3 linked regions of the Homo sapiens genome follow. The protein of the gene in region 3 purifies or fractionates together with the protein of the main gene of each other region. This does not show direct contact. Each region holds a gene or a part of one and is shown on either strand. Other genes may lie near its edges. The genes, in order: DIAPH3, KIF26B and KATNAL2.

The links.
Region 1: the proteins of KATNAL2 (region 3) and DIAPH3 purify together in Homo sapiens (tandem affinity purification; one large-scale study listed by IntAct). This does not show direct contact.
Region 2: the proteins of KATNAL2 (region 3) and KIF26B purify together in Homo sapiens (tandem affinity purification; one large-scale study listed by IntAct). This does not show direct contact.

Annotation. Positions count from the first base shown.
Region 1 is NC_000013.11:59,664,957-59,668,034, forward strand, and holds the end of DIAPH3 (protein diaphanous homolog 3), read right to left. Parts: intron 1,891-3,078; coding exon 1,628-1,890; 3' UTR 627-1,627; downstream 1-626. UniProt on the Homo sapiens protein: Actin nucleation and elongation factor required for the assembly of F-actin structures, such as actin cables and stress fibers. Required for cytokinesis, stress fiber formation and transcriptional activation of the serum response factor.
Region 2 is NC_000001.11:245,605,937-245,609,591, reverse strand, and holds part of KIF26B (kinesin-like protein KIF26B), read right to left. Parts: intron 1,942-3,655; coding exon 1,848-1,941; intron 327-1,847; coding exon 64-326; intron 1-63. UniProt on the Homo sapiens protein: Essential for embryonic kidney development. Plays an important role in the compact adhesion between mesenchymal cells adjacent to the ureteric buds, possibly by interacting with MYH10.
Region 3 is NC_000018.10:47,057,064-47,060,718, reverse strand, and holds part of KATNAL2 (katanin p60 ATPase-containing subunit A-like 2), read right to left. Parts: intron 2,485-3,655; coding exon 2,367-2,484; intron 1,164-2,366; coding exon 1,065-1,163; intron 1-1,064.

The sequences.
Region 1 (3,078 bases), on a different chromosome or scaffold from region 3:
CTCCCCCGTGGCTGCTCCCCGGTCCCAAGTTTCCAGAGTTTTTACCTGCTTCCTGGTGTGCCCAAACTATCTAGTTGAATTTAAGTTTTGTTTCTGAAAAACCCAAGTCTGCAAAATCACATTAAGAACTGATAGTGAGAGTTCTTTCATTTAAATTCTTTCCTAAACAAAACAATCCTGCCTTGTTGTTAGGGGTGCCGTCAGCTTAAATATGTAAATGTCCTTCACCTTTCTTGATTTTTAAGGTTTGTTTTCAGAAAAACAGGAATTGCAACTGGATGGCAAAATGCACATTTCAGCAATACATACAAATTCACATTTATTCCTACACTGGCTACAGAGAATACTCTGTTCTCCAATGTCTATAAACAGGGCCTGGCTCATAGTTCTAATTAATTAACTTTATTAACTTAGAGCTGAAAGGAGGTGGCAACTTAAGGAAATAAAAAGCAATAGACCTTGCCCGACTAGTTCCATATAACTGCTTTTTAACTGAAGGTAAAAGAACAGTCACTTACTTATTACATGTAATAAAGCAAAATAGATGCTTAGACAGACTGCATAGCACAGTCTATTCTCAGCTTATCCACAGAATGTTTTCAAAAAAAGAGAGACAAAAGAAAGCATTTTTTTTCATTTAGTGCAAGTAGCAAGTTTATTTCCTTTGATATAGAATTAACAGAGTAATGATGCCCAAATGAGGTAATATTACATTTGCTTAGGAAAACTTTCCTTGAAACACTTATTTAGATCTTTGTTAAAGTTATTGATTGTCAGATCAGAGAAATTGCAATCCCAAGTTTATTCATAAAATAAAAAAAGTTGTTACTTTGGAAATTTCAAAATGGCAATTTTATCTCAGAGTCATAATTACAAGGGGAAAAATACTCTCTTAGCCAAGATCAAGAATTTCGGCAGCACTGCAATTCTGTTTACATCCACGTTACACAAAAGCACATGCATTTGGCAAAGAGAGTGCATACATTCTTATTGCATCATTTTTCGTTATGTGCTCAATTGCCTTATGGTCCCCTAGAGGGTCTACTTAACATGAATTCAACAATGATGATAATGGGGTCACCAGTCATTTCCTTACATATATAGCTCTGATGTATTCAATTACATGTTTTTGATGTTGTGCTGGTAGTATATAGATCCCAATTAAGGAGAAACTTGGGCCTATATAAACAATATATATGGAATATACATGGATATGTAAAGACTTGAGGTTGATGACCTGACATCCATTAATGTTAAAAATAGTAAAGTAAAAATTCCAGTGGCTTAGAAAGATGGTATTTTCTTAAGGACACACTGCTGAACACATGGCCACCTACCTGCTCTCTAAAGCAATATGTATAATTTAACCACCAAATAAAGAACTGAGGAATACCAGGAGACAAAAAAAAAAAAAAAAGGATTAAAGCCCGGTACAATCTTGAATAAACCAAAACCTCCAGTACATAGAAAAAGCATTGCAATCATATATTTAGCTTTATTTTTCTAATATATATCATAATTTAAAACTATATAAAGTCACTTACATAAAAGCAATTTTTTCAAGTGTTATAGTTTAGAGCATGGCTTTATATTTGGCTTAATCATTTTTTTTAAAAACCAGTTTAACTTATAAAGCTCGTAATCTTGCCAGCAGGGCTTCAACTTCGGGAACTGATTCATTTTTAGAAAAAGAGCCAAGAAGTTCCGTTTCCTTTTTTCTGTTGCTTTCTACATTACACGCTTCCTTCTTCTCAGCTGCCTTGATCCTCCCAGTAGACGTATGAGTGTCTAGATTATAATTAAGCTCCTTGGCGACTGGAGTCCTTGTTGAGTTGCAATTGATATTGTAGTGTGAACGTGACCCTTCTGTCAACTGCACTTTCTGATTTTCTACAGTAAGGAAAAAAGAAACATAAAACTTATCACCATGATAACCAAGGACTGTGCACGTTATGAAACACATTTAAAATAATTATTCTCAATAAATAAGTAGTCTTCTTAGATAGACTAAACAAAGAAACAGTCAACAGAGTAAGACAGGTTTAAAATAATCACACAGGGGTTTAAGAATAAACTAAAATATAACAGCCAACCGTTTCATTAGCACTAATGCCCATTTCCTTCTTCCTTTATGCCTGACATGCCTGTCACGTGGTTATTATCAGGGCCTGGTCCCATATTTCTTTCAGGTCTCTGTTCAAACACCACCTAAAAAGAGAGGCCTTCCCTAGCCACCCATCTAAAATAGCATTTGCCCTTTGCACTGCTCTATCCTTCCCCGTCATGTTTTCCTTCACAGGGCACATGATGGCTGGACACACAATATATTTGCTCACTTGTCCATTGTCTGTCTTACTAGAATGTGTGCTCCAAGACAGTAGGGACATTATTTTAAATACTGCTGTAACTTCAGGGCCTAAAATGGCCCTGGTGCAAAGTAGGTCCTCAATAAATATTTGTTGGATAAATAAATAATTTCCACACTCTGTGACACAAGATTAAACATTAGCTTGAATAATAATGAGATTAATTTCCTTTTTGAATGAAATCAAGAAGGAAAGTTTCTAATAAGAATTTAAAAAGTCGATTATTTTCCTTTAAAGAAACAATGAACTTGGCAAGCAAATAATTAAAACTTCCTAGCAAACCAGAATGTTATATGTAATTGTCAAGTATATACACATCTATACATACATGCATGTACATATATACATACACACATACATTCTTTTATTGGTAAGTGATGGTAATGATGACTTTTAAAAAACAGACACCCTCAATATTCATGTAACCTTGAATGGGGCTTGAAAATGGCTTCAACAAACCTGACATGACATTTAAAGTTTTTTGGTTATTCTCTGAGAGATGTTCCATTGTCCCAATAGTAATGACTTTGGAGCACAAGCAGTCACTCATGACAGTGTGTTTTATGTGAGTGCTGAAAATTCCAACTGAAAACAGCTTGTACATTAAAAGGTGGCTGCTGAAGATATTTACTGCACTGTCATTTTCTGACCAGAGGCTTCCAGTGATGGATGAGGATTTTACACACTTTCTTGGACAATCTCAACAAATTTT
Region 2 (3,655 bases), on a different chromosome or scaffold from region 3:
GCCCCAGCCTCTGAGGTGGGGAGGGAGCCACCTTGGGGCGAGCCAGGCTTCAGAAGCAATCACCTGCGTGCCGCAGATGGGGTCCTCACAGAGGTACACGCCCGGGGACTGGCCGTCCTGCAGGCTGCCCGTGGCCACCTCCGACAGCAGGTCCCGCAGGTTCTCCTCCTTCCCCCACACTTCCACGGCGGAAACCCGGACTGAGAAACGGGCGCCGGTCTTTTCCTTGCGTTCGTTTATGAGCTTGAAGAGCCAAGAGATGGCACAGGGAATGATGCCCAGGTTCTGCATGGAATCATCCTTTCCGATCATGGTGTAGGATTTTCCTGGGAGAACCAGGGAAGGAAGAAAAGCAGGTTCAGTGTCCAGGCATCATTCCACGGAGTCTCCAAAATAGATGCCAAGGATATAGAAGAAAGGCACAGGGAAGGGGGGAAAAGGGAAGAGAAGGAACAAAAAGATGAGAGAAATAGTATTTGACAACAACAGAAGGCATTTTCTGGTATTACTAACTAAATGGCTACAATAAAGAATGCTGGTTGGGCTCAGTGGCTCATGCCTGTAACCTCAGCACTTTGTGGGGGCCAAGATGGGAGGATTGCTTGAGGCCAGGAGTTCCAGGCCAGTCTGGGCAACATACGGAGACCCTGCCTCTATGAAAAATTTTTAAAAATTATCTGGGTGTGGTGGGGCATGCCTGTGGCCCCAGCTACTTGGGAAGCTGAGGCGAGAGGATCACTTGAGCCCAGGAATTGGAGGTTACAGTAATCTATGAGCATGCCACTGTACTCCAGCCCAGGCAACTGAGAGCCATCTCTTAAAAAAAAAAGAAACAAAGCAAGAGCCCAGACATGTGACAAGATTAAATCACCATGTACCTTGAGGAGGACCCCAAATATCACATGCTATCCAGTTCCTGCACTGCTTTACACACAGTGGGAAGGCTGGGCTTTTTCATCATCATTATGGTTCTTTTTATAGTTACCCCCCAGATTAAGTCCACATATTCACACTTTATATCCTGTCTCAAGTTAAATGCTGTGTATATTTTTATGGCATGAGCAAATTCTATTAAAACCCAGATCACTGCTTACATCAAGATCAAGAGAAAGGGCTGGGGAGGACGGAAGTGCAGAGAGAGGCAATGGCTTTCTGTCCTGGCTGAGAACTGGCCTCTGTGAGCTCCAGCAAGGCCTCTGTTGGAATCTCTGCCAAGGGACAGTTTTTGAAGCTCCTCAATTCACTAAACATATCAAGCGTGTAAGGGCAAGGCCTGGGGAGCAGATGGCCACAGGTCAGAAGTAAGATGGGACTGTGGGGGGATTTATGAACCCCTTGTTGGGGGGCTCTGCTGCCTCCTTTCCCAGACGCTTCAGCGCTGGAGTGTTCCCGACGGTGTGCACTGCTTTCTCCAGACGCGCCCTGGGCTCTGGGCTTTGCTTGGAGGTTGCTCCTCTGGCTTTTACAGGGGTCCAACCACCAACCCACATCCTCATGGGTGCGGTGGTGCAAGGGGCCCTATCTGCTTCCCAAACAGCGGCTGCTCAGGAAATGAATATTTTCCTGCCTGCCTTCTGGGCTTGACTCTGACCTGGACCAAGTGGGAACAACTCTGCTACTTCTCTTTCCATCTATTTGGACTTGAAGGCTTTCCTACATGAATGGGTGTCCACCTACAATGAACAACATAGGTTTTCGTCGTATAACTTGTTATTGGTTATTCAGCTCAACACCTAAGAGAAACGCAGCCCTTCCTGTCATCAGAGAACTCTGGGAGGGAGACAGAGGAATGCATGGGATGACAGGGAGCTCAACGAGCCGCATGAGAAAGTGAAACTCTCACGAACCCAGTTTGGCGTGGCCGAAACAGAACACGCAGCCATCTGCCCCGTTGACCACAGACTGGATCACCTCTGCCACGGTGCCTGCACACACTTCAGCCTGTCAGACACAAGAGGAGACACGAGCCGTGAATGGACCTCGCAGCGGAGACACCACTAACAACGAAAGTGAGCCCACCTTCCTGGGGCTTCGGGTCCCAGTGTCACTGTGTTCCCAGGTGGGTTGGCCTCTGTCGTGAAGTTTTGGAGATGCTCAGAACCCCTGGCGACCTTCCGCCCTTTGCAAGCCTGAGCATTATGCACATGCACTGCAAACCACCCTTCTGCTAATCCGTGGTACGTTTCAGCGAATGCGTCTGTAGAGCAGGCAGGAGCAGGCTGGAATGGGGGCACAGTGTGCTCATGAACCTCATTCCCTTCCCTCATCTGCCATTCTGGGGTCCCGGATAAGGTCTTTAAACTCTCCACTCACCCTCTGCTGACACACGTATACATAGAGTTTATTAAACAGGCCAGGCTTATGAGAGGGAAAAAGGTGACCCACCATTTCACAAGTGAGACCTTGAGAAACACCGTAGTTCTCACGTAAGCAAGAGGTTTGTGATATATATCTGCTTTCTCTCCTGATCTCTTTCCTCATTTTCAATTCACACCTTCCTCATTTTTTTTTTTTTTTTTTTTTTTGAGACGGAGTTTCAGTCTCGTTGCCCAGGCTGGAGTGCAATGGTGCGATCTCAACTCACTGCAACCTCCGCCTCCTGGGCTCAAGTGATTCTCTTGCCTCAGCCTCCCGAGTAGCTGGGATTACAGGCATGTGCCACCATGCCTGGCTAATTTTTTGCATTTTTTTAGTAGAGAGGGGGTTTCACCACGTTGGTCAGGCTGGTCTCAAACTCCTGACCTCAGGTGATCCACCCGCCTCGGCCTCCCAAAGTGCTGGGATTACAGGCGTGAGCCACTGCGCCCGTCCCATGCTCCTCTTTTCAAAACCTGCCTTTTCTTCCTTTTGCTACAGATACATTCAACATATAGAGTATCAGTCACCACATGGTATGTTATTAGGTGTTCTTTGGCCGGGTGTGTGTGTCTGGTCTCCAATTTGATTATTAAATCCTAGACAGGGACCAGGCTCTCGATGATGTTTTGTATTTCCCCTGAACACCCGCTAATACAGAGCTCTGCGAGCCATCAGAGCTGTCGGTTTTGTGGACTAACTTGGAGATCTGGGAAATGTCCTTCTCTTTGTTTAGCACCTGAGACTTGTCACAGAAGCAGAAAGATAGCATTATTCGCTGTGCCCTGTTGCTTTCATTTCTGTCTCGGGGCCGGAGTCAGGGCTCGTGGGAGCTCCGGGAGGCAGTGCTAACATGGGGCTTTGCAGCCCTCGGGGCAGCGTGCCTCCCGGTGGGCACCTGGGCCGTGAATGTTGTTATTCAGCAGCACAGTGAACCCAAGTATTTGGAAATCAGTTTTCTCTCCTAAACTAAAATTGAAAAACCACACTTCCAACAGCTGTCACTTGTTCCAGGGTGGTCCCCAGCAACTCTGCGGGGGGCGGGGGGCTCCTCCTGGGCCAGAGGGGGTGGCAGGACAGGGCTGCTGTAGGGCACACAGGATCTTTCAAACCCCCCAGGACTTAGGCAAGGAGAGCCCAGTGCTAACCCTGAGACAGAAGCAGTAGCGTCTTGATGGAATTTGCCAGAGGCGTGTCTGCAGAGCAGGCAGAAGGCTGCCCAATGGACTAAGCCTTCTTTGGACATAAAGTGGGATGGGAGGCAGGAGGCTGAGAAATCACCTTGAGCTATACATAAAAT
Region 3 (3,655 bases):
CCCCTCCAAATTCACACACACAGAGTTCAGTTTTTCTAAGAGCTGGCCAGAACTAAGTCAGCACTCCAGAGGTTTGAGCACTTGGCTGAAGAAAGAAGAAGCTTAAAGAACTACAACCTTGGAGAGTATGACCAAGAGCAATATGGTGCAATTCATTTCCAAATTACATGTTTTAATCTACCTTTTGACTACATCCACCCAATCTGGGTCTTTTCTGCTTAAGACATTATTATTTAGAAATCTAGACATGAGATTCATTATGAAAAAGGTAAAAATATCTATCAAGGACAAAATCAACCCTGTATCAACTGATGTTTCATGGTCCACATGAAATTACATTTAGACCAGGAGCCATCCCTCCAAGGAGAAAGGTGACACCACTAATCAAATGCCACTGACAGGACAGAGCAGAATGAGTATGCGTTTCCAACTCACTAAATAACGCAGATGTCCTAGCGCTTTGGGAAGCCCAGACAGGAGGATTGCTTGAGGCTAGAAGTTTGAAACCAGCCTGGGCAACATAGTGAGACCCCATCTCTAGAAAAATGAAAAAAATTAGCTGGATGTTGTGGTGCATGCCTGTAGTCCTAGCTACTTGGGAAGCTGAGGCAAGAGGATTCTTTGAGCCCAGGAGTTTGAGGCTGCAGTGAGCCATGATTGCACCATTATACTCCAGCCTGGGTGACAGAGCAAGACCCTGTCTCTTAAAAAAAAAAAAAAATGATGAGAACGATGCAGGATGATCATGCCAATGTTTGTCATTGTTATTACAGAATTTTTAAGCTGATGGGAACACTAGAGACAATCTCTTCCAAGCCCCTCAATTTACAAATGTGGAAACTGAGTTCCTTAGAGATGGGGCAGTTCATGCCAGCCCATTCATTCAGAAAGGAGATTCCAAAGAAGAACCCATTTTCTGACGCTCTTCTCCATTTACCTCACAGCCAACCTTCAAAAATCACATCTTAACTTTCCTGTTTGACAAAAATAATGTTTTTTGTTTTCATGTTTAAAAGGAAAAAGAAATTACCACTTTCAGTGTTAGGTTCATGAGTTTCACTTACTCTTCGTGGGTGGGCATTTTCCTCTCCACTGTCTTTACGGATTCTTGATATATGTAGGCCGAAGTTGGCACTTTCCAGGCGAGTGTTATCAACTACCTCCTGAAGAAAGAGAGACAAGGACACATCGGCTGTGAGCAGCCATGGAGAGTTGCTGGATGTACCTGCCTACTCCATCAAGCAAAGTCCGATGCTGGATAGCAATTCTGTGAACGCGACATGCACATGTAGCTTAGCCACATTTGTGCAGACCCAGGAAGATGAAGTAGCTGTCTGCCTGCACTATGTGGAAAGAGTTGTCCCTGGAAGACTGAGAAGATGCCAGGCCCCATGGGCCCCAAGCAGCTTTTCCAATGTGCTTCAAACAGTTGTGCCTCAACCCATCCCCATTCGCTGGCTCGTCTTTTCTCCTGTGATCAGGGGTGTTTTTGGCCAGGAGTGGCTGAGTTTGGAGATATGGCAGAGTCAACTAGCCTCCCATGGGACTCATCCTGCCCCACCTTCACCTCTCTTCCACATGAGTCAGGCTGCAGCGGCCAGAACCGTAGGACCTCCTTGAGGGGGAGAGAATCCTTTTGACCAATCGGATATTGTGATTATACCTTTCCGTTATTTGACATTAATTTTTTTAATTCCTTTTCTCAGTTTCCATTGGTCCTCTTTCCTTTGAAACCTGGGATGTTTAGTCCTAACTAAGAAGGTTCTGGACATGAGCCTCCTGAGTCAGGAGCCATTGACTTCTCTCACCTGCTGGATTCTCTCCTTGCTGCCCTTCTTGGCCCCCAGGAAGTCCAGCATGAAGGTCTGGGGTGAGGGCTGACCATGTGCGATTTGGAGGAGCCCAACAGGAGACCTTGAGACCCAGCCATACCTGAAATGTAGTGTAGGCTATGCCTGGCCTACACTTAGGAACCTAGCAATGTGCTCTGGGATGGGAAGACCTGCCATCTTGGTTAGCTCAGTTACCTCAGGTAATAGTTACCTCAGATGGGAGGATCAAGGCAACCAGGCCTTCCCGCTCTGACTGGGCCCTGGCCCCACCCTGGCCAATCACCCAGCACCCAGACCAGGGGAAAAACTTGGAGGAGAAAAAAGTCCTCCCACTCAAGTTAAGAAACATTAGGAAATCTAGGGATATGTCCATGGTTTTAGTCCAGTGTACTGGAAGAAAACCTAAAATTCAATTAGATCACACAGCAATTTTAAAAGCGTAGGTCCTCAAAAAATAAATAAATGTGACCTTTTTCATAGGGCTATTTTTCAGCCAAGTGTGCTGTTCACAAAGTCAAGCCAAGCCATCCTGACCTGATTAGGATGCTCCTTATTGAGCGATTTGGTGTCCCCTGTCTTCCCCGCTGTGGTTTTGGACCGGGGCCTCTGCTGATTGATCTTGGGAAGATTTTGACAACTGTCGTTCATCATCCTAAGGGAGGGAACAAAGACCTTGGAAGAAATTATTCTAGCCACTTAATTTGAGGTAGTTAAACAACTATTCTTAAGAATAGCACATTTAAGAAAGCTATTGAAAGATATGCAGGTGGCAACTATAGGGCCCTTCCACCTATGTGATCCACCCACCAGGTCCATCCTGGCCCTAACACCCTCCAGGCTACTCACTGGGTTCTTCTAAGATTGCCTCCTCGAGCCCCCCAACTCACCCTCTTCATTTCCCTTTCACACCACATAGCTTCGGCCCTTCTGCAAATAGCTTTAGTTCTTAAGAATACATTACTTTACAAGCATTCTTCCATTGTTCCTTCCACCTTCCTTAAAAGGAGCATTAGACCAGGAGAAAGGTGTGAGAGAGAAAGGAGTCCTCCCATTCAAACTAAGAAACAGTAGGAAATCCAGGGATTGGCCCCATGGTTTTAATCCAGTGTCCTGGATATACCCTGCCTACTTAAAATACCTCTCAGCATGTTATGAGTAATAAACATCAAAAGGGGATTGCAGAAGGAAAACAAACTTCCCTTCATCAATGTTGTCCCAGACCAATCATATTTGCCAAACAAATTTTCATCAACAATTGTTTACTTCAGACAAAACAAACTGATGGGGCTGGAAGTCAGAAGAGTAGCTAACTCTGATGGAGATGGGGAGAATTTGACTGAGAAGGGGCAAAGGTAGCTTGCCGGTGGCTGTAACTGTGGTTACAAGAGTATATACATTTACTGTATACATAGTTATATATGTGGTATGACTGTATATATGTTATATATCCATAGAAAGATCAAATCACTTTTTTCACTACATCCTCATAATTAGATATAAAATTCAGTATTGGAATATCCATATTTTTCTGTAGAAGATGCCATCCAGAGAGAGACAGGACTAGCTTGTGGGGGCAGAACATGAACTCCCACATTGTTGCTTAGTTCTCTTAGCACTTTTGTCCCCATATGTGAGATGCATTTGCAGAAGGTTCGTTAGAAGCAAGTCTCCCCATGTTCAGAGTGATCTCAGAGAGCTGCTATTTCAACTTCCTTTCTTTATGGGGATAATAAATGTTCATGTCTAATATAAATGCACAACTATTTGGCCAGCAAGACCACACATGTCGATAACACCACCAATGTCCACATGGTGACACATCT